4 separate regions of the Homo sapiens genome follow, and all the other regions are linked to region 4. Evidence: fine-mapped expression QTL. A gene starts in region 4. Each other region holds a variant in brackets. All regions are shown on one strand. Distances are from middle to middle. Region 1 has its middle 140 kb from the start of CAV2-DT. Region 2 overlaps MET (MET proto-oncogene, receptor tyrosine kinase). Region 3 overlaps LOC105375463 (a long non-coding RNA gene). Region 4 holds the start of CAV2 (caveolin 2).

Evidence for each region. PIP is the estimated chance that this variant, and not a neighbour inherited with it, causes the effect.
Region 1: its variant is the best candidate, but not a certain one, in a credible set for the expression of CAV2 in whole blood (INTERVAL, PIP 0.57).
Region 2: its variant is the best candidate, but not a certain one, in a credible set for the expression of CAV2 in putamen (GTEx, PIP 0.56).
Region 3: its variant is the best candidate, but not a certain one, in a credible set for the expression of CAV2 in whole blood (INTERVAL, PIP 0.65).

What each region holds. Positions count from the first base shown.
Region 1 is chr7:116,353,357-116,358,508 of GRCh38, reverse strand. No RefSeq gene overlaps it. Among named protein-coding and RNA genes, the nearest start is that of CAV2-DT, 140 kb to the left of the region's middle. RefSeq lists an enhancer at 1,454-4,900. The variant C/T (reference allele first, on the strand shown) is at 3,102.
Region 2 is chr7:116,785,610-116,790,761 of GRCh38, reverse strand. All of the region lies in intron 19 of MET (MET proto-oncogene, receptor tyrosine kinase), which reads right to left. Among named protein-coding and RNA genes, the nearest start is that of CAPZA2, 74 kb to the left of the region's middle. The variant T/G (reference allele first, on the strand shown) is at 2,243.
Region 3 is chr7:116,331,327-116,336,478 of GRCh38, reverse strand. All of the region lies in intron 6 of LOC105375463 (a long non-coding RNA gene), which reads right to left. Among named protein-coding and RNA genes, the nearest start is that of TES, 120 kb to the right of the region's middle. The variant C/T (reference allele first, on the strand shown) is at 2,493.
Region 4 is chr7:116,497,399-116,502,550 of GRCh38, reverse strand. CAV2 (caveolin 2) reads right to left here and starts at 2,813. Exons shown (of 3, transcript NM_001233.5): 1 at 2,620-2,813; 2 at 2,104-2,291. The coding sequence starts at 2,769. It overlaps CAV2-DT (CAV2 divergent transcript), which reads left to right and starts at 3,035. Exons shown (of 3, transcript NR_188012.1): 1 at 3,035-3,197. RefSeq lists silencers at 762-1,056, 2,841-2,930 and enhancers at 3,111-3,250, 3,297-3,798.

The DNA of each region.
Region 1 (5,152 bases), 140 kb after region 4:
TTGTTGTTAAAGAGGAATATTCAGGAAAGGTCAGGTCTGGTGGCTCAAGCTCTTCCTCACATGATAGAGAACTACTTTGAGGAGGCTGTGGGAATCACATGTCTGTTGCTAACTTGAGTTCAGCCTTCTCTGTACTTACTTATTCTCTTGACCTTGGGCTGTGCTGTCAATTTTTTCTTTTCTGAGGGTTTTTTGAAATGAACATAAAAGGAAATCCTTTCAAGACTGTTCAGATCCTTGCTATGCAAAAATTGCATTTGAAAGAGGTCTTAGATATGATCTAATGCAATTCCCAAACTTTATGTGGAATTCTGATTTCTGAGATGGCCAAGACACTTTATTTTTATTTTCAAGACAGGGTCTCGCTCTGTTGCCCAGGCTGGAATGTATGGAGTGATCACAGCTCACTGAAGCCTGGACCTCCCACTTCAGTTTCCCGAGAAGCTGGGACTACAGGCATGCCTGGCTAATTTTTTGTGTTTTTTGTAGAAATAGTGTTTTGTCATGTTGCCCAGTCTGGTCTCAAACTCCTGGGCACAAGCAATCTGCCTGCCTCAGCCTCCCAAAGTTCTGGGATTATAAGCATGAACCATTGTGCCTGGCCAACCAGGACAGTTTAATGGGAATTTCATATTTCTCATCCGTGAGTCATATCCTTTTACCCAGAAACTGGGAAAACATCCCCACTGAAAACCCAAATAGATGGTACTACTTTCTCAATTTTTACATCAACAAAACAAGGTAATTTCATTCAAAGGAATTATAGTTAATATTATGTATTTTTCAGCAAATTAATTCTGTGATGCCATTTGATGACCTACAAAAAATGTGTCCCAGTGTTACTTCACTGTTCTATATTAGGGCCCTTTTATACACAAACTCTGTGGTATTCCTTTCCACTAACTGCCCAGCACTGGCCTGGTTAGTTCATCTCCATTTGGCAAATCACTATTTGGGGGTAGTTGGTCATGTTAGTGTGTTTAAGCCATGTCACATTATTCTGTCAGTCAGGTCCTATGTGTCCCAAGAGCCCTTCAAGAAACTCACTGGTCTCTTTAGATCCTAGCAAGGAAAGACTAGAAATGTCTCCTTCCAATTTGGTGATTGTACTTCTTATAGAATGGACTGGTTTGGCAATAAGGTACCAAATACTGCTACTCAGAGCTTATCTGATTTGCATGCAGCTAAACTGCCTCTGTGTATTCAGCTGCATGTCCCTATAGAAAAATCACCTTACTATTTTTAGAACTCCACTGTCCATTGTCCTATTCTGGAATAGACAGTAGCTCTGACTATAAGTTAAAATGGGCTACATTAAACCCTGCCAGGCCTTGCATTTCTCTCATTTGGTCCTTCACTGACAAATTCACATAGTGCAAAGGTCATGGGCAAGCTATAACTCTTCTCTGGAGCTCCAAGCTGGCTGCCCCTGGGGATTTATGTTCCACTCTCCTAACTGGGCTTACCAAGCCATAAATTCCTGATTAAAGCACAGACCGCTTGAGAGACAGGGAGGTTGGAAGAGTATCGATGCTCAGGTCTCCAGTCACCCACATATTTGTATGAGAGCCTTGGACTCCTGGACCCAAAGCCAGTGTAATTACTTTATAACTTAAAAATCATGGTTTTCAATTTTAAAAATTCATGTAAAAATGGAAGTCACTGTGCTGGAAATGAGTCTTTCCTTTCTGAGTTCTGTAATGCTATGTTATCTTTATATGTTTACAATAGAAGGAAATGGTCCTACTGGCTGCCAGTGAGTGAGGTAGCAGAGTAGAGCTGCATTCTAAAATCAGAACTAATATTCAGCACCAGCTTCTATGGTCTTGTGTTTTGATGTGCTGGCTATTGGGCCTACAGAAATGCACCTTCTGTTTATGCTTCCAAGTGTTCCTTTTATCTCTAGATAAAAGTGTACAGGGGAAGTTGCCAAAATTAGTCTACCTTTTGGACCCAGGCCATAGTTAAACTTAGATATAAAACAGATCAAAGAGTTCCATTCTGATCCAAATAGCTGCAGCCCAGCAGCATGGCTGGTGGCAGTATGAAGTGGCTGAACACCTTCTGATTTGGAACATCTGAGCAATACTTTCTGGGCTGCAAGGCACAAAAAGAGGCAGCATGCATGTCTGCTTTTGAAATGACTGTCCGCCTTCCAGGATTTGACAGAGGAGCACTTGTTTAGACTTTGGTGTCTAATCCAGTGGGAAGCTCCCAGGTATTCCTAAAGGCTGCCGCAGGGGGTCTCTATGAAGGGGGGTACTCTCCTCTCCTCAATACACACAGGGTTAATTTTGTTCACAGTCCTTCCATGCTTCCTTTAGGTGAAGCCAAACTGTCGAGGTTTCTTCTTTACCAGGTGGCAGCAATTCCCCACCCGACTCTTTTTCATTTTGCATTTACGTTCTGATTTTTAGAGTCTTAGACTGATGTCCCCGGGGAGAGTAGGAGCAGACAGAAGATTCTTGGGCTCTGTGAATCAATAGGGTCACCAAATTATTTACTATCCAAACCAGAACACTTCTGTCAGTGAAAGAGGCACTGTTGGTAATTAAATCTGGACAACTAGAGTCAACTGAGACTCTCCTGGCAAACTGCGGTGTATGGCCACCCTCTGCATAGAGAATCGGGTGATTTCTGGCTCTAGAGATGCAAGTCAAGTGCTTCTTTTCCTGTGCGTGATTGGGCATTTTTAGTCGCTCCTCTAAATTATTATAGATGATCATTTTCTGCTCTTGATAGCAAATATAACAATAAGAAAAAATTGGATAATAAATTTTCATATGACTCAAAACACAGCCCCGTTGTTAAATAATATTGCTTCAGAATAGATTTTCTTGCAAAGAAAATGTTCTGTACAAATTCTTTAAAGAAGTCTTTCAAGTGGATTTTTTTTAAATGATGCCACCGCCCACTACTTACAAAGAAAGTCTTGAAGGGGAGCAGCAACCCCTCAGGCCATTTCTATCAAAGAGATGTACAATCAGTACCAGCAACACAAAAATGCTCCTGTAATTGCACCCAAACTATTTTTTGTACCTAACAAATTTTTGTCTTCAAACTGCAGTTGTATGGCTGTGTTTCCGTTCTGTTTGTTTTAC[C/T]ACTTCCCTTTGAAATATTTTGCATCATCCTGGAGATTTTCCCAAGTTGTGGTCTGCTCGCTGGAGGGCTGCGCTCCTCTGATTTGCAGCATGAAGTTGTGTTGCCATGGCAGGGGTTGTTTACCATAGGGGAACACTTAACAGGATGGGCACCTCCCACAGCCATTCCAAACTCCTTTCCTCCTCTTCTCTACTCGCTTAGATATTCTGAGACAGCAGCCCAGATATGGCTTTCTCTAATCGTAAACTACATTCCCGGAGCGTGAACTTGACTTTGCTATGCTTTCGAGATAGGGAAATGTTTGGCTCTGTTTATTCCTCTCAAACTGGGCAGTGTCCTCTTGACTGTTATGACTAATCCACTTGTCATGGCTGGAATCTCCTAACAATTCTTTCCCTCAGGTAAATCACATCGCTCAGACTTGTGAAGCAAAAATGCCACTGAGACCAAAGGGTGACCTTGTGGTGGTCGCAGCCTGTTCACCTGACAGAGGTCTCTGTTGCCCAGGAGGACTTTTTATTTTTCCAATAAAAGGAAAGCTTAGTCAGAACCTGACAAGTCTTGCTCCCTCACATTCCTGCAGAGGAACCAGCCTGGGGAGAGATAAGAGCCGTGGGTTGACACCCTGATTATGCTTACCTTCTTATTTGTTAAATGTGGAAATTGACTTCATCCAATTAATAAGAGCAGGAAACAGTTTTTGTTTTGTCTTTGTAGGAAAACATGAAGTAACAGTTTTATCTCAATTTGTCAGGCATTGCCCAAGAGACTACAGCCATGTGGGCCAGTGGCCAAAAAATTGCTCTAAGGCCCAAGTATTAACACCCAGATATAAAAAGAATGCTAATTGGTTTTCCAGCTGAAAAATAATAAGGGATTTGCTGCCAAAAATGCTGTATGGCCTGAAAACCCCAAGTTTATACAATAGGGCCTGATTACAATCTGGGGGCTCCATTTGTGCTCCTATGAAGAGCTAAACAAAGGGAGGTGTTTCGCTCCTCTGTCTTTGTAGAAAGCTCCGCTCCAGATCTCAGCCTGGTGGAACACCAGGCTTCCCACAGTCTTCCTGCCAAATCCCCAAGTTTTTTCCTGGCTGCCATTCAGGAAAGTACAGCTTCGTCTGTAGGATGGAAAGTTAAAAAGGCCTTGCTTGGATACGCTGAAATATATACAAACACTGCCTGACGTATGGAGTAGGCTGCTGCCGCTGGCATCTTAGTAGAAAGAATGTGAAATTTTTAAAAGTCATTTTGGGTACGTGATTGAGATGTTAGCTGGAAGAAGAAACTTTTTTTGTTTGTTTGTTTTAGAAAAATGAAAATTCAGCATTCCCCTTAATCTTAACAGTTATCTTACCTTAGTTGTCTCATTGGTAAAATGTCAACTAACCTCCAAGATCCCATTTAGTTTGGGCTGTCTGTAACTTGAGGGCCGGGTATAGCGTATGCAGAAAATACAGGCTGTCTACTGAATATCTTTGAAAAGGTCCCTGGAAGTGAGTTGGGATGAAAGTCAAAGTCTGGAGCACTGGCATGGTACAGTCCTAGGCTGGTGTGCTGATGTGTATTGGCTGGGTGCCAGCCTGCCTGTGACTTCACACTACAATTCCAGGTCTGTATCACTTATGGGAATGGGCCTGAATTAAAATGATTGCATAATACTTACAACTCTGTTCTCTTTATTTCCAGCTGATGGTAAATATTATGGCAAATTTCACAGCATTTAATTAATCTTACCCATAATGTTTTTAAGTTGTAGTTAATACTAAAATACACTACCTTTTCACCAATCATGGTCATAGACTATTATCCTAGTCACGTATGTAATTATGCAACTAAGTTAAAGAGTTTTTTTTAAAAAAAGAATTACTTTGAAAAATGAAGTAAAATGTATTCTCAACAGCCAACTTCTGCCAAAATATGCGAAGAATAAAACAGGCCATAAGAATCCATTGATGTGTACAAAATTATTTTTTTGACAGAAACAGGCAAGCAACTATGTTTGTTGCTATCAATGCTTTTCTCTTGTTTATTACTTTTTGTTTGTTATT
Region 2 (5,152 bases), 290 kb before region 4:
AAATGTGGTACATCTGTACGATGGAATACTACTCAAAAATAAAAAGAGATGAACTACTCTGCTGTGGAAAACAGTAGAGAGGTCCCCAAAAATTTGAAAATAAAATTACCATATGATCCAGCAATCCTGTCTCTGTGTGTATATACAAAAGAATTGAAAAAAAGGATCTCAAAGAGAATTTTTACATCCATGGCCACTGCGGCACTATTCATAATAGCCAAGAGGTATAAGAAACCTAAATGTCCATTGACAGATGAATGGATAAAGAAAATGTGGCATATATGTACAATGGAATATTATTCTGCCTTTAAAAAGAAGGAAATCTTGTCATATACTAGAACATGGATGAAGCTTGAGAATATTTTGCTAAATGAAATAAGTCGGTCCTAAAAAGACAAATACTGCATGATTCCACTTATATGAGGTATCTGAAGTAGTCAAACTCTTAGACAAAGTAGAATTGTGGTTGCCAGGGCCTGGGGGAGAGAGAGAATTGTTTAATGGATATAGAGTTTCAGTTTTGCTAAGATGAAAAAGTTCTAGGAATCTATTGCACAACAATGTTCACATAGTTAACAATACTGTACTGTGTATTTAAAAATGGTTGTATGCAGCCATAAAAAGGAACAAGATCATGTCTTTTGCAGGGACATGGATGAAGCTGGAAGCTGTTATCCTTAGCAAACTAACGCAGGAACAGAAAACCAAATACCGCAAGTTCTCACTAAGTGGGAGCTGAACAATGAGAGCACATGAACACAGGGAAGGGAACAACACACACTGGGGCCTATCGAGGGAGGGGAGGAGCATCAGGAAAAGCAGCTAATGCATGCCGAGCTTAATACCCAGGTGATGGGTTGATAGGTGCAGCAAACCACCATGGCACACGTTTACCTACGTAACAAATCTGCACATCTTGCACATGTACCCTGGAACTTAAAATAAAATAAAAATCGTTCAGATGGTAAATTTTATGTATTTTTTTGCCACAATAAGAAAGGAATGAATTACTGATACGTTACTACTACTGATACGACAACATGGATGGCTCTCAAATGTAATATGCGAAGTAAAAGGAGACAGACTCATAAGACTACTGACTGCATGATTCCATTTATATGACATTTTAGAAAAAGTAAAACTCTAGAGACAGAAAATAAATCTGGTTTTCTGATTTCCAGGTCCTGGGGATAGGGTAGAGGTTGACTACAAAGGAGCATAAGGAAATTTTCTGAGATGATAGAACTGTTCTATGTCCTGATTGTTGGGGTGGTGGTTACACAACTGCATGCATTTGTCAAAACCTGAAAAACCGAACACTGAAAAGAATGAGGAGTGGGTAAATTACACAATGGTGATGCCATTAATCAAAGCCAGGAGGTGAGAAATTGAGGGTTTGGCAGGAAAGAGTTTGATTCTGAACATGGTAAATTTGTGACACTGATGATGACATCCAGGTAGAGAGAATCAAAGGTGGTTATTGATGGGAATGGTTCCAACTGTTGGTGGAGGATGACCCCTAAAGACAAAAATCCTGGGAGACAGCTACATCTGAGAGAAGGAAGACAGAAGGAAGAGAAGCCATTGAGGATAAAGAAAACAACCTAGAAGCAGGAGGAAAACTGGAAGTTTCAGTGTCCCAGAAACCAAAGGAAGAGGAAATTTCAAGAAAAATGAGGGTTACAATAATGTTAAACACTTCAGAAAGATGAGGCAGATAAGGGCTGAGAACAAGGAAGTCAATACACAGTTTAATGGAAGAACTTGTATTAAGTGTGAAACAACGTATAATACAATTACAACACCCATTGCAAAAGGGTTCAGAGGAGGGTGTGAGTGATTTCCAGTGTAGTGACACTCCGATTTTGTTTGAATGGACTTAAAGAGTATTCAGATTTTAGCCAAACTCCATTTGGGCATTTTCTAGAAAGAAAACCCAATCTACAAGCAGGCAAGTTTTTGGTCGCAGGTTTCAACATACACATAGCTCATTGCATGCTTTTGGAAATGTTCCATGTCAACATTCAAGATTGCGCTGTCCTGGAAGTAAAACACTGTGCAAATTTATCCATGCAATCAGTAACCATTTCCCAAAGCAGCATTATGTACAGATTATTCAGGTTCAGCCTTTATGTAGCACAAAATAGTGTCTTTCGATGAGAGTGAGAAAGAAATAGCACCATCCTATCTGCAGAAATCTATGTACATTTCCAGTCAAGTATCTGAGTGACTGTGGCTATGG[T/G]GGAAGCCTTGGCCTCTGTGCTGTCTGTGTGTGTTTGTTGGGGAGGTGGGGGTATTGTTGCATGTATGTGGCTGTCAAGAAGCTTAGAATCCCAACACTTGCCCTAAACATCCAAAATTTCATCAGGCTCTTTTTTTATAAATCAGCTTTGTTGAGGTATAATTTATAGATCATAAAACTCACCAATTTTAAGTGATTGGTGATGTTTAGTAAATTAAAGTGATTAAATGATGTTTAGTAAATTTATATAGACGTGCAGCTATCATATCATCACAGTCCAGTTTTAGATCATCTCAACATTCCAGAAAATTCCCTCATGTCCATTTGTGGTTTATCTTCACTCCTTCTCTTGGCCCCAGGCAACCACTGATTTGTTTTCTGACTCTGTAGTTCTGCCTCTTTCTAGAAATTTCATATAAATGGAACCATTCAACATGTAATTTTTTTATCTGCCTTTTTTTCACTTAACATAATGTTTCTGAGGTTTATCATGCTGTAGTAGGCATCAGTAATTCCTTTATGTTGATGAATGGTTTAGTCCATTGTATGGACACACCACATTTTTTTTTTATCCATTCACCCGTTGATGGACATTAAGATTGCTTCTGGTTTTTGGCTATTATGAAGAAAACTACTGTGATCATTCATGTACAAATCTTCATGTGGGCATATGTTTCATTTCATGTGCTCATTAGCTAGCTATTCTTACGTCTCTTTGGTAAAATGTCTATTCAAATCTTCTGCTTACTTAAAAAAATTGAGTAATATTGCCTTTGCTATGGTTTGAATGTGTCCCCCAAAGTTCATGTGTTGGACACTTAATCCCCTCCCAATGCAACAGTGTTCAGAGGAGGGATCTTTAAGAGGTAATTAGGTCATGAGGCTCTACTCTCATGGGTGAATTAATGTCATTATCTTGGGAGTCAGTTCATTATTGTGGAAGGGGGTTTGTTAGAGAATCTGTTCACCTCTTGCTCTCTCTTGCACTCTCTCACACCCATGTGATGCCTTCCACCATGTTATGACACAGCAAGAAGACCTTCAGCACATGTGGCCCCTTGATCTTGGACTTCCTGGCCTCCAGAACTGTGGGCCAAATACATTTCTGTTCATTATAAATCCCCCAATTTGTGGTATTGTGTTATAGCAGCACAAAACGACTAAGACAGTCTTATTATTGAGTTGTAAGGGTTGGCTCTGGCTTCTTAATGGCAGACTAACCCTCAAGTCTGAATGAACAGTATGTTCTTGGAGGATGGGTTAATTCTCCCTATCTTTTGCCTTCACCTGCCACTGTCACTAACATGTCCCCAGTCTCCCTCTCTAGCACCCACTTCTTTCACCTCTTTCAGAATCTTTCAGGATCAAAATCCCAGGCATTAAGCTCTACATGGCACTATCACTTTCTCTTACCAATCTCATGCATGCTGAAGTCCTGGTCCTCCACCATGACCTATGACCTACTTACTCATTGAAAACAAACTCCCAGTCACCTCGTCTTATTCTCTAATAGTTCCCCTACCTCCTCACAGGAACTGAAACTCAGCTTTCAGTTGAAGTCACAATTTCTTTGCAACTCTTGCCAATAGGGGTCACACCTCTCCCTCTTGCTGATTCACAGAGAGGTGGATGAGATGACTTCTTGCTTCCCATGCCACACTCAGATCTCTGACCCATCATCTCTCAAAAGCTACCAACCCTTTCTCTTCAAGTGCATGTCCCCCATGAACATTATTTTCTGACTACTTTGTTTGCACATTTTCCTTTTTTAGTTGTCATCCTTAAGGACTGAAACATCAAATGTTTCTCTATCTTCAGACATCACAGTCCTCTGACTTACAACATGTGAATAGAATAAGTGTACTCTCCATTCCATTCAACACCTGTGCTCCTAAGCACACTCTAGACCTCCAAATCACTCAAGTTACTCAGCTTCCAAGACCCTTCTGGTGTACTGAGTAGCAGTGGACTCTGTTGAGCATCCAATTTCTCCTTGAAACTTTCTCTTACTCTGACTTTCATGGTGGTCTTTGCTTCTGGGTCCCTTACCTCACTGCTTTTCTCTTTCACTTTATATATGTAGTTGAATAATTGCTTTTGGACTACTGAATAATTGCTTTTGGACTCTCAAAAGCATATTCCCAGCCTTGACCCCTGCTATGGACTGAATTGTGTTCCCCGGAAATTCATATGTTGAAGCTCTAAGCCCCACTGTGACAATGTTTAATGATGGGGCCATTTAGAGGTAATTCAGTTTAGACAAGGTCATGAGGGTGGGCATTCATGCTGGGATTAGTGCCCTTCTAAGAAGAGATACTGGAGAACTGACTCTTATTCTTTTAGCCATGTGAGGACACAGCAAGAAGGTGGCCATCTATAGGCCAGGAAGAGAGCCCTCAATAGAGCCCAACCATGCTGACATCCTGATCTTGGACTTCTAGCCTTCAGAATGGTTAGAAATACATTTTTGTTGTTTAAGCCAACCAGTCTGTGGTCTATTGTATGACAGCCCAGGCTGAATAATACATTTTTTACAAGTTGCAGATTCACATTTTCAATTGCCTGATGGACTTCTCTGCCTGGACATTCTACTCCCAAGGCAAACTCAGTGTGTTTAAGGCTCAACTTGCTATTTTTGTTCTGAGTCCAGCTTTTGCTTCTGTGCTTCATATATGTGTTATTGCATGAGCATATATCTTTGCTAATCTTTGACTTTTTATCAATTCCTTGGTAAATACTTCTGATTCTACCTCTGAGATGCTCCTCCTTTCATCTCTTCCTTTCCATTCTCATTGTGTCTTATTTCAAGTTCCACTTCTCACTTCATCTTCCTGCTTCTACTCCTTTCAAGTTGTCTTGGAGAATGATTGATATGGTTTGGATTTGTGTCCCCATTCAAATCTCATGTTG
Region 3 (5,152 bases), 170 kb after region 4:
CAGCACTTTGGGAGGCCAAGGCGAGTGGATCACCTGAGGACAGGAGTTTGAGACCAGCCTGGCCAACATGATGAAACACCATCTCTACCAAAAATACAAAAATTGGCTGGGCGTGGTGGTGGGTGCCTGTAATCCCAGCTACTCAGGAGGCTGAGGCAGGAGAATCGCTTAAACTCGGGAGATGGAGGTTGCAGTGAGCTGAGATTGCGCCACTGCACTCCAGCCTGGGTGATGAGTAAAACTCTGTCTCAGAAAAAAAAAAAAAAAAAAAAAAAAAAAAAAAAAAAAGGGTATTTGTTATAGTCTGTATGTGTAACATATTTTATAATTTCCTTTATTTTATTTAGCAGACAATTTCAATTCCAGGTGAAGTCAGGGTAAACAACTTTTCCAAGTTAAGATAGTTCATCTCTTATGAGTAAATAACTTTCAGCAATTTAGAGCCCTATTTTGGCTGTGCCTCCTGCTACCATAGGCTGGTCCCTCCCTGATCCTTCTTTCCAATGTGCAGGAGGAGGTTGCATCCATCCTCATGTGGCAGGAGTTGAGGGCACTTTCCACATTCTTGATGTTCTTTGCTTCGGAGGGGTTGGTTTGGTCCCCAGAGGCCCTATACTGGTGTCCTCTGAGATGTGGCTGGTTATACCTAACCTTGTTGAATATTTCGCTGGCATTAACTTCTAATGTATCACTTCTTGCCAGTTGCCTCAAGGAGTAAAGTCCCTAGGCTGTGTAGCTTCCTTTTCCCAATCAGAGTCCCCTCTAGGTTTTTGTGGCCTCTCCACATTTCCCCACTGAGCCACACAGACATTTCTGGGTCTCTGGTATGCCTTGCATCGTCTATGGGAGGACTGGGGCACCCTCTTGGGTACATCATCAAATGCTTCCTTTGTAATTCCTACTGTACAGCTCTTTGGCCTGTTGACAGAGAAGCAGAGCATCAACCTCTCATTTAATCCATTTTAGCTTTCTGTGGGCATTTTTAATTATTTGTTTTGTCTCTTTGGCCACGGCACAGGGATGGCAGTGTGGCTGCTCTAGATCAGCGAAGGGAACCAGGCATCTCATCAGTTTAACTGCTTCCTCTCTGAGCCCTGTGCCTCCCTTCCATGACAGAATAATTTCTTCTTCTTCCTTCTTACTATTGGGCATATCCCTTGTGTCAAATCATTTGTTGTCTCTACGCAGTATTTTCTAGTAAAACTCTAGGACAAAAGTCCATCAGGCCTAGATCTGTATATAAAAATTGGAGTTTAAGGGATTCAGAAAAAACTTAACCTCTTTAAACAAAGCCTCATTTTTAAGAATCTTACTGGAGATTAAAACAAGTCTAATTTTGGAAATCAAAAGCTGAACATGGACATCTTTTTATCTTACATTGCTGTTTTAATGCTTAGCCTCCTTACAATAATGGCCAAGCCTCCACTAGCTGAAGTAAGAGGGCATCATATACAAGGAAAGGTGAGAAAGAAAAGTACACATCAATATATTTAAAAATATATTTAAAATAAAAGTATATTTAAAAACACAGAAATGGACTCCAGCTAACTTAATCATATGTGACATATTAGAAGGCTATTCATGTTGGAAAATCAATGGAACGCTGAGGGATAAGTGTGGGATGCACAGGAGCCTAGGGTGATCCCGAGTATCCAGATGTGGAAAGCGCAGCAGTGTGGATAGGATAGCATGCTGCTATTTATGACTCAAAGGCCAGTCAGAGAGCATCAGTGGCTGAGCTTAGGTGTGGACCTATCCTCTGCCTTCAGCAGGGATGAGGAGTCATGGCCTCTGTCAGCTTCAGCTTCCATAATGACTGGAGGCATCTGGATTCCCCCATCACCAACACAAAAATTGGTGGTGGGTTCTGGAGGCTGATTAACCTCCAAAAAAGAAATTGGAGTGCTATTGGAAAGTCATTCTTGGAAAGTCCTAAATGACGAATATATGCAACATCTAAATGAAAACAAAAAAATGTGGGAAGGAAGGGCTCAGAAATAAAAGGTGGGATGTCCGAAAATGAGCTCCTTCTTTGCACTTCTGTCAAGGATAGGCACAACCCTGTGGTTTGGGGCATGACCTTGGCCTTAGCACCCATACCATAATGCTTCTTTTCCCTAATTTTCTGGCTCCTTTGCTTTGTTTTTCTTTGGAGGCTGTTTTCTCCCCTTCTCTGTGTAAATGGCCACTACAGCACCTGAGTTCACCGCTCTGCCATTCGATTAAAGTGCTGAATTAACCAGAGCCTCTTTATTCCAATTCTGAACTTCCAAGGGAGCATATCTGATTAGGCCGGTTTAGTATATCCACACCTAATGAGCTATGAACACAGGGGAATGGATAGGTGCAAAGGGTTATATGGTATCAACACTATTTGTGAGATGTGAGGCTGGCAGTGGTTCTCAGAAAGGAGAGAATGGGGCATGGAGTGGGAAAACAGGCTAAAAGTTATGATGGCAGGCTATGATTATACCATAACATGTTTTACAAAT[C/T]CCCTAATATTGAATATTCTTTCATTCTAATTTTTTCCTATTATAAGAAAATTGCGATTTTAAAAATCCTTTGAAGGTAAATCACATTCTTCCCTTTAGGATTAATTCCTGGAAGTGGAATTGCTGGTGCAAAGAATCATTACATTTTAGAACTTTTGATGTATATTTGTTGTCTTCCAGAAGCCAATGTATGCCATCTCCAGTACTTAAAAGTACTCATTTTCCTACTTTATCTGGGTATATTAATTTGCTTATTAGACATATTAAAAATAGTTCATTGCTTTAATTTACTTGTATTTAATTTCAAATAAGATCAAGCCTTCTTCGTAAACATATTAGCCACTGCATTTCTTCATGTCTTTCATGTATTTTATTGTGTTAATCTTATTGATTTTAAAAGTTCTCTAGTTATAAAAGGTAATCTTTTGTTGTATAGTATGTCTCAAATATCTCTCCAAGCTACAGTTTGCCTTTTGAGAGTTTATATCTAGATTTTTAAAACATAGCTATGAAGTAGCTTTTTAAAAAACCTATGATTATATCATGTAACTAAGTCAAAATTTGGTCAGAGGGATATTCTTCTTTACAGAGTTATTGGATTTATTTGTTCTTGTGGAATATACTGATCTTTTGTTCAATCTTCTGCCTTTAGAAAATGGAGTGGCTGTTGACTAAAACCACCAGAAGTGAAATACAGAGTAAGGCTCACTTTATGCATGATGATGTTATTGGTTTGTTGATAGACTTGGTCACATAAATCCAAGATATAGTTGATCTAGGCCTTTTATTTTGCCATTTAGGGATAAGATAAGAAGAAAACAAACCTGGTAATGCAGCACCAATTGTTAGAATATTGTCTGTAGGGCTCTGCTTTTACATCTCTTTTCAATTTTTCAAATAGATATTCGTAGGTCAAGATTTTCTTGAGAGCTGACTAGAATTAACTTCTGTGTATTAGATTGAAATTGGCTCAGAAGTTAATGTGTAGCAGGAGGTATTATTTCTTCTTCCAAGAGATATTTGGCTGAGAGGCTGCCAATTTCTGTGCTATGAAGTTTTTTGGAGAAGAAAATTAAATTATTTTATCTTTGGCTTTAAGGAATAAATATCCATCTCCAAACTTTCTAGCCCTATCTGAGAGTTGCCGTTGTACGTATCTTTCTAAGCTTTATTTTTATCACCACCTGACAAATATTATTTCATTTTTGTTTTCATATATAAGGTTTACTTCTCTTTATTTTATAAATGTAATCAGCACAAACTGGATAAAGAAATATTATAAGGAAATAGCCATTTAACCCTAATTGCTATCAGAAGTTCACAAAGGAAAAAAACATTCTAGATGTACATTGTCCAGTTTATAACCGTGGATGACTTGTTCACCAAAGGCTCTTCTAACACCTCAAACACAACACATCCAAACTTAGAGCCGACATACACTAAGGTGACCCCCAATGCATCCTCGTTCTTGTTTAATTCTCTCTTCTTGAATGTAGGCAGAGCCCGTGACTTGCTTCTGACCAATACAATATGCAAAGGCAGGATTTCACTCTTTTGATGAGTGTATATTGTATGCCAAAGATGGTGGATTGTCACTGCCTTAAGTATACAAGACTCTCTTAGCACACTGCAACTAGAGATTCTCCCATTGGCCTTGAAAAAGCAAATGGCCATGTTATGAACTGCCTATAGGGAGGCCCAGGCAGCAAGGACCTCCCTTTAGGGCTTAAAGTTTGCCTTAGCCGCAACCAATAAAAGGCTAAGACCCTCAGTCATACAACCACAAATACACAAATTCTCAAAAAACCTGAAAAACTTGGAAAAGTGGATCTTCCCCAGTCAAGCCTCCATATGAGAATGCAGCTTCCAGATGAGAATGTAGAATGCAACCTTGATTACAGCTTGTGAGCTTCTGAGCAGAGAGCTTAGCTAAGCCATACCCAGACTGCTGACCCACAGAAACTGTGACAGAGTAAAGGCATATTGTTTTATATTGCTAGGTTTGTGGTAATTTGCTATACAGCACATAAAACAAATATGCAGCCTAAACTCAATTGTGTTTCCCAAGCTTCTTGTATTTTCTTTGTATCAGCGCAACTATCTTTCTAGTGAAATTCATCTTTGATTCCCAAAGTCAAGCAGCTACCAAATCCTGCTGATTTTATATCTAAACCATCTCTTGTGTGATTCCACTTATCATCAGTTCTTACCAAGACAGCTGCAAATCTTTTCCTTCCTTGGGCCCTCATGGTGCCTTTATTCTGTGCAATGTTGGCAAATTACTCTCTCCAAAGCTGTGCTTCCCAAAACACCTTCTGTAGATACTAGTCCCATGAAATATTCACTATACTGTAAGCTCCATACGGGGAAGAAAGGCAGCTGTTTTGTCCACCATTGTATGCCTGATGTGAAGTAAATATGTACTTTAGAAAATAATGAGTACACAGATCAGAATGTTTCTGGAAGAAAATTGTTTGTATTATAAAAATAGAAGCCTGATAATTTTTGCTTCAGGTTTTAAGAGGGAATTTAACAAATTATTTTTCTATCACAAGAATTTTCACAGCAATCAGAATCTCAGAACAGATGTGAACTATTAGTAGGATGATCATACATCTCACTTCTGGCTCCCCTTTCACTCAAAATCATGCAGGTTGAGA
Region 4 (5,152 bases):
TGTCCTTGATCTGGTCTTATCATGTCATGGGAATGCAATCTATTAATGATAAACCTATTTTATCAAGGCATAGCTAACTTTTAAGCATTCTTGTTTGAAATTACTCCTCTACTTGCAATCACAGCTGCCTGGTGACAAATGTTTTACAGTTAAATATTAATGCCCCACATAAATATAGTTAAAAAAACAAGCTGAAGTTAAATAATATTAAATAATACATTTTATGTGGCTAAAAAAAGGTGCATTGATGATTCACCAATTGAAGCACTATACAAAAACACCTCCCATTCTCAGAAGAGCCAGCTGGAGAGAGGCATTGCTTGGTTAATTGTAGTTTTACTTATATCTTTCCACCACTTAGTAAATGAGAAACTTTTTTTTTTCAAATTCTTTCACAAAAGCTTTGGGAAGCCTAGCTTTGTTGACTATAAATATGGTACTTCACATTTCCAAATAGCTTCATAGTCAGCATTTCACAATATGCTATGCGGTCACTCAGTTTTTCACAGTTTTGAAAGTGAGAAAACTGACATAGAGGTTAGATGATTAGTTTTAGTTAATTGGGAATCCCAAATCTTATGTGCCAACTCAGGGATCTTAAAAAAAATTCAAGTGCAAATGTCAGAATATAACTATCCATTTGACCTTCATGAAGCTGATCATGTACTAAGGCAACATTTTCATTTCCCTGGCAATCTTGGCACCTTCAACATAGTTTAATTGTTTACAACCTTTAGTGATAAAATTAAATTGGTGTTCTTTGTGTATCCTTTACGTATTTGGTGAATTTTCATTTATCCTTTCAAAGTCTTTTTCGACTCCTTTCACTCTTCAAAGCCTTGTCTGTTCCTCCCTCTTTGTCAGTTGACTGTGTTTTCTCAGCGTCCATCTCTGTACCTAGCCAGCTGCCCTGATAAGGCTGTGAGTAAGCTGAAGGCAGACCCTATCTCTCATTCATCCTGGCCCAGTGCCCAGCACAAACTAAGCACTCAATCAATTTAAAGTTTGTTGAACTAACTAGCTAGCTAACTGACTAAATAAATTAAGATTCAGGTGGTATAGAGAAATAAAGGATAAATTGGTAACTTCTAACAATGAACACCGAGTATTTATCAGGGTGTGGCAATATCATAAAAGGTGTAAGAAAGACACGGAGGTACCTTGGGTTATACCTTTCACCAGGACTAACCTGAAGCACTAGCGTGACAACTGTTGTGATACTGGGGATGATCTGAATATTCTTCCTCTCAGATTAAAGTGGATATTTTCTAACACAACAACATTTATTGGTAAAATATGACATTTTCCATAAAAAATTTAAAAGATGCTTAAGAAAGTTCTCTACAGTTTAGGACACATTTTGAGTATGAATAGAGTTACTCAAAATATCCTATCAATATACAGTGGGCTTCCATATTTCTTTCCCCTTTAATTATATGCCACTTCCATTTGTGTTTCATCAGTGAAAAAGTAATTTGGAGGCCTTCTCATTCATTATCCCGCAGCTGGAGTTTTCATTCGTTTGTACTGGGGGGGACCCTCGCCTTAACTGCACACACCTCCCTTTCCTCTGGGTCCCATCCTTGCCATCTGCCAGGGGCAAAGTTGAAGCAGCCCCTCCACACTACTGCTTAACCAGGTCTGACATCCTCATCCAATTCTACTGTCAGCGGCATTCTGCTCAGAGATCACTTTTGTTTTACCCCAAGCACAGGCAGTGACTGAATAAAAGGCAATGAAAGAAAGAAGAGTCCTGCCCAGAACCGCAGGTACGAGTCACAACAGGGCCCCGAGAGCAGCCTGTGGTAAGAAGTGTGGCTTCCAGGTACCCGCCTCCACACTCAGCCCAGCCTTATGTATGCAAGGAAAATCACACCCCAGGAAAGACCGACATTCTTTCTCCTGTTGAAACTCCAAGCCCAAACTGTTATTCTAAAGGAAGCGCATTGCCTTTCAAGGCCTTCCAGTTCTTCCTACTGCTTGGGAACTGATGCGCGTTCCTCCTCCTGACGCCGGCCTGGGATAAGAGGAGAGTAGGGGGCAGGTGGCGGAGAATATGCCCATGTTTCAGAAAGCCGGTCCACCCGGTGTGCCCCGTCTCACCAGATGTGCAGACAGCTGAGGGTGGCAAAGAGAATTCCCGCAATGAAGGCCAGGGGAATGGCCAGGAACACCGTCAGGAACTTGTACATTACGTATTTGCTGATTTCAAAGAGGGCATGGCTGCAGATCCACACTTTGTCAAAGGAGTGCGTAGTCACCGGCTCTGCGATCACATCCTCGAAGCCCAGCTGAGGAGACAGGACGCAGGGACCCCGAACTGTCAGCCAACCTGACGCCCCGGGAACCGGGAGCGCTTTGGGCGGGGGAAGCAGGAGGGAAGGACGTGCCAGGGCGTCCGCCTCTTCTCTTAGGGTCACGGTGGGCGCACAGGAACCTGGCTAAGAATTCCTGGCTACGCGGGCGGCCTGGTGACGGGTGGGACCGGGGAAGGGTGCGGGTCTCAGACCCTGCGGGGCCGACCCGGTAGCAATGGTGGGACGGGTTAGGGCGGGGCTGAGGGGCGCCCGCACCTCCCGGCCTCAGCGGGGACTTGGGCCCGCCCGCCCCGGGCTTCACCTTGAGATGCGAGTTGAGCCGGTGGGGATCCCGGTCCTGGTCCGAGTCCGCGAACTTCTCGGGGTCGGCGTACTCGAGGCCGCTGTGGTGGCTGTAGGAGTCGTCGTCCATGAAGAGCTGTACGTCCGCCTTCTCCGTCTCCAGCCCCATCGCAGCCTTGGTGCGCGGCCGCTGCAGCCCGGCTGGCGCGGTGCGGCTCCCGGTCCGCGCGGCCTCCCCTTCCCGTAGCGCCCGGCCCCGCCCCCCCTCGCCTCGCCTAGCCCTGCGAGGCCCGGGCGGCGGCCGCTTCCCGCTGTGGGCTCCAGCTCCCAGCCCGGCCGTCCCGAGCCCCGCCCCGGCGCCCCGCCGCCCCTCCCCGCCCACCTCCCCCGCCGGGGCGCAGGGAACCGTCCCCACGAGTCACAGCCCGGGCCCTGCAGTGGGCGGCGACGCCGGCAGCTGGGACGAGGAGGGCCTCCTGGTCACCCTTCTGGGGGCCCGTACTGTCATGCCTCAGAGCTGGCAAGTCGTCCCAGGGAAGACAACGGCCTTCCTGGAGGGAGGGAACCTTGTGGTTAGGCGCATGGGGTGCGAAGCAGGTATGTGCTCACCTCCGGCTGTGTTTGCCTTGCGTGCTGCGGCTCATGGTGCTGGTATTGAGCCTCTGGGAACCTCAGCTGCCTCGTTGGCAAAATGGGGGCTGTGGCATCTGTTTCAGGGGTGTCCGTGAGAATTAAATGTTAATTTCACATAAAATTCTAACACACATGGCCCATGGCCCGTAACACACAGTGATAAACTTCCAATCAACGTTGTTGCTGCTGTCGTGAGAGGTAAGGAGCCACAATGTACCTGAGTGCTAGGTACCTGAGTGCTAGGTGACCTGCAAGTGCATGTGGAGTTGGGTAGGCGAACGCCCTGGCCCTAGAGTTTGTGCCTTCAGATCTGAGGTGTGAGGGGAGATCTGATTTTTTTTTTTTTTTTTTTTTTACTTCCTAAACTACACCGTGTGTGTGTGTGTGTGTGTGTTTGTGTGTGTGTGGCAGAGTTTCGCTCTTGTTGCCCAGGCTGGAGTGCAATGGCACGATCTCGGCTCATCGCAACCTCTGCCTCCCGGGTTCAAGCGATTCTCCTGCCTCAGCCTCCCGAGTAGCTGGGATTACAGGCATGCACCACCACGCCTGGCTAATTTTGTATTTTTAGCAGAGACGGGGTTTCCCCATGTTGGTCAGGCTGGTTTCGAACTCCCAACCTCAGGTGATCCGCCCGCCTCGGCCTCCCAAAGTGCTGGGATTGCAGGCGTGAGCCACCGCGCCCGACCTCCACCTTTTAATTTTCTTGTGAACCAGACTGTCTTGAAAGATTCAGGAACTTCTAAGATGCAGTCACATCTGTGATTATCTTGCAGGCAGCACGGAAACAGAACCCTAACACAAAGCCACATTGCAATGGATGAATTAGCCTGCTGACCACTCACGCAAAGGTTTTCAGAAGGGAGGAGTTTGCATGTTCATAAAGGGCTTTAGGGTCTGGTAGACATATACGTGTGTTTGGGGAGGAAGGGCACTTAGTGAAAATTTGCCAAAAGCAAAACAATGAGAACTAGGCTTGAGGTGCAGGTTGCTCAGAGCTCAAAGTAGGCATGTAGTAGGTATTGCTGGATACAGTGTATTTGGAGCTTGTTGAACATATCAAATCCCCTTATGTGAACTGGATTTGAAGAATTGCTTCTTCCGAAAGAAAAAAGATCATTTTTGAAACAGTAAAAATTACAGAAATAAAAAAGAACAGGAACTGAATGAGAAAAATGTTTGGGGGTGGGAGGCAAAGTTCAATATTTCTAATAATTAAAAAGTTTCCCTGCTGCTACCTCAGTATATGAAGGGCAGTGTTGTAACCCTATAGGGTGTTACAGAGTTGACTCTCATGGCTATGGAGCCCCTCCTCTCCCAGACATCACCCTGCTTACCCATTCCCTTCTTTTTTACGTATCTTTCTCATTTTTATTTATGTTCAGTCAATTCCAAAGTGATGACTTAGACATTCTACTCATTGCATTTTCTCTGCTTCTCCACCTTGTCCATTCTCCTGATGAGAATTGGAACTCTTCTAGAATTGTTGCCCAACAACTGTTCATTAAAGTGAATAGAAGACATGAATCCTTATGGGAATCCATAATATCAACTGTGAGGAACAGAAAAAAAAAGGAGATAATTTACAGCCAAATACCATTTTATAATTATAATTCAAAATTATAATCCCAGATTTCAAGGTCTCACCCAAAGAAGAAAGTCACTGCCCTAGTACAAGAGTGGGCTTATGTAGTGGGTAAAAATCTGACATTAGCACTTCTTACCTTATAATTCTTGGTCCTCATTACATTTACATTTTCCATGGGATTATTAGGACATTTGAGAGTTATCACAAATAATTGATTTGTTTTCAGGAAGTGGCCAAGAGGACTCTTTAGACAACAGCTTCATTCGTAAAATGATAGGTATTTAAGAAAGGTGTCTCTAAATCCCATCTAAATGAGACCCATCTAGATTTGTTG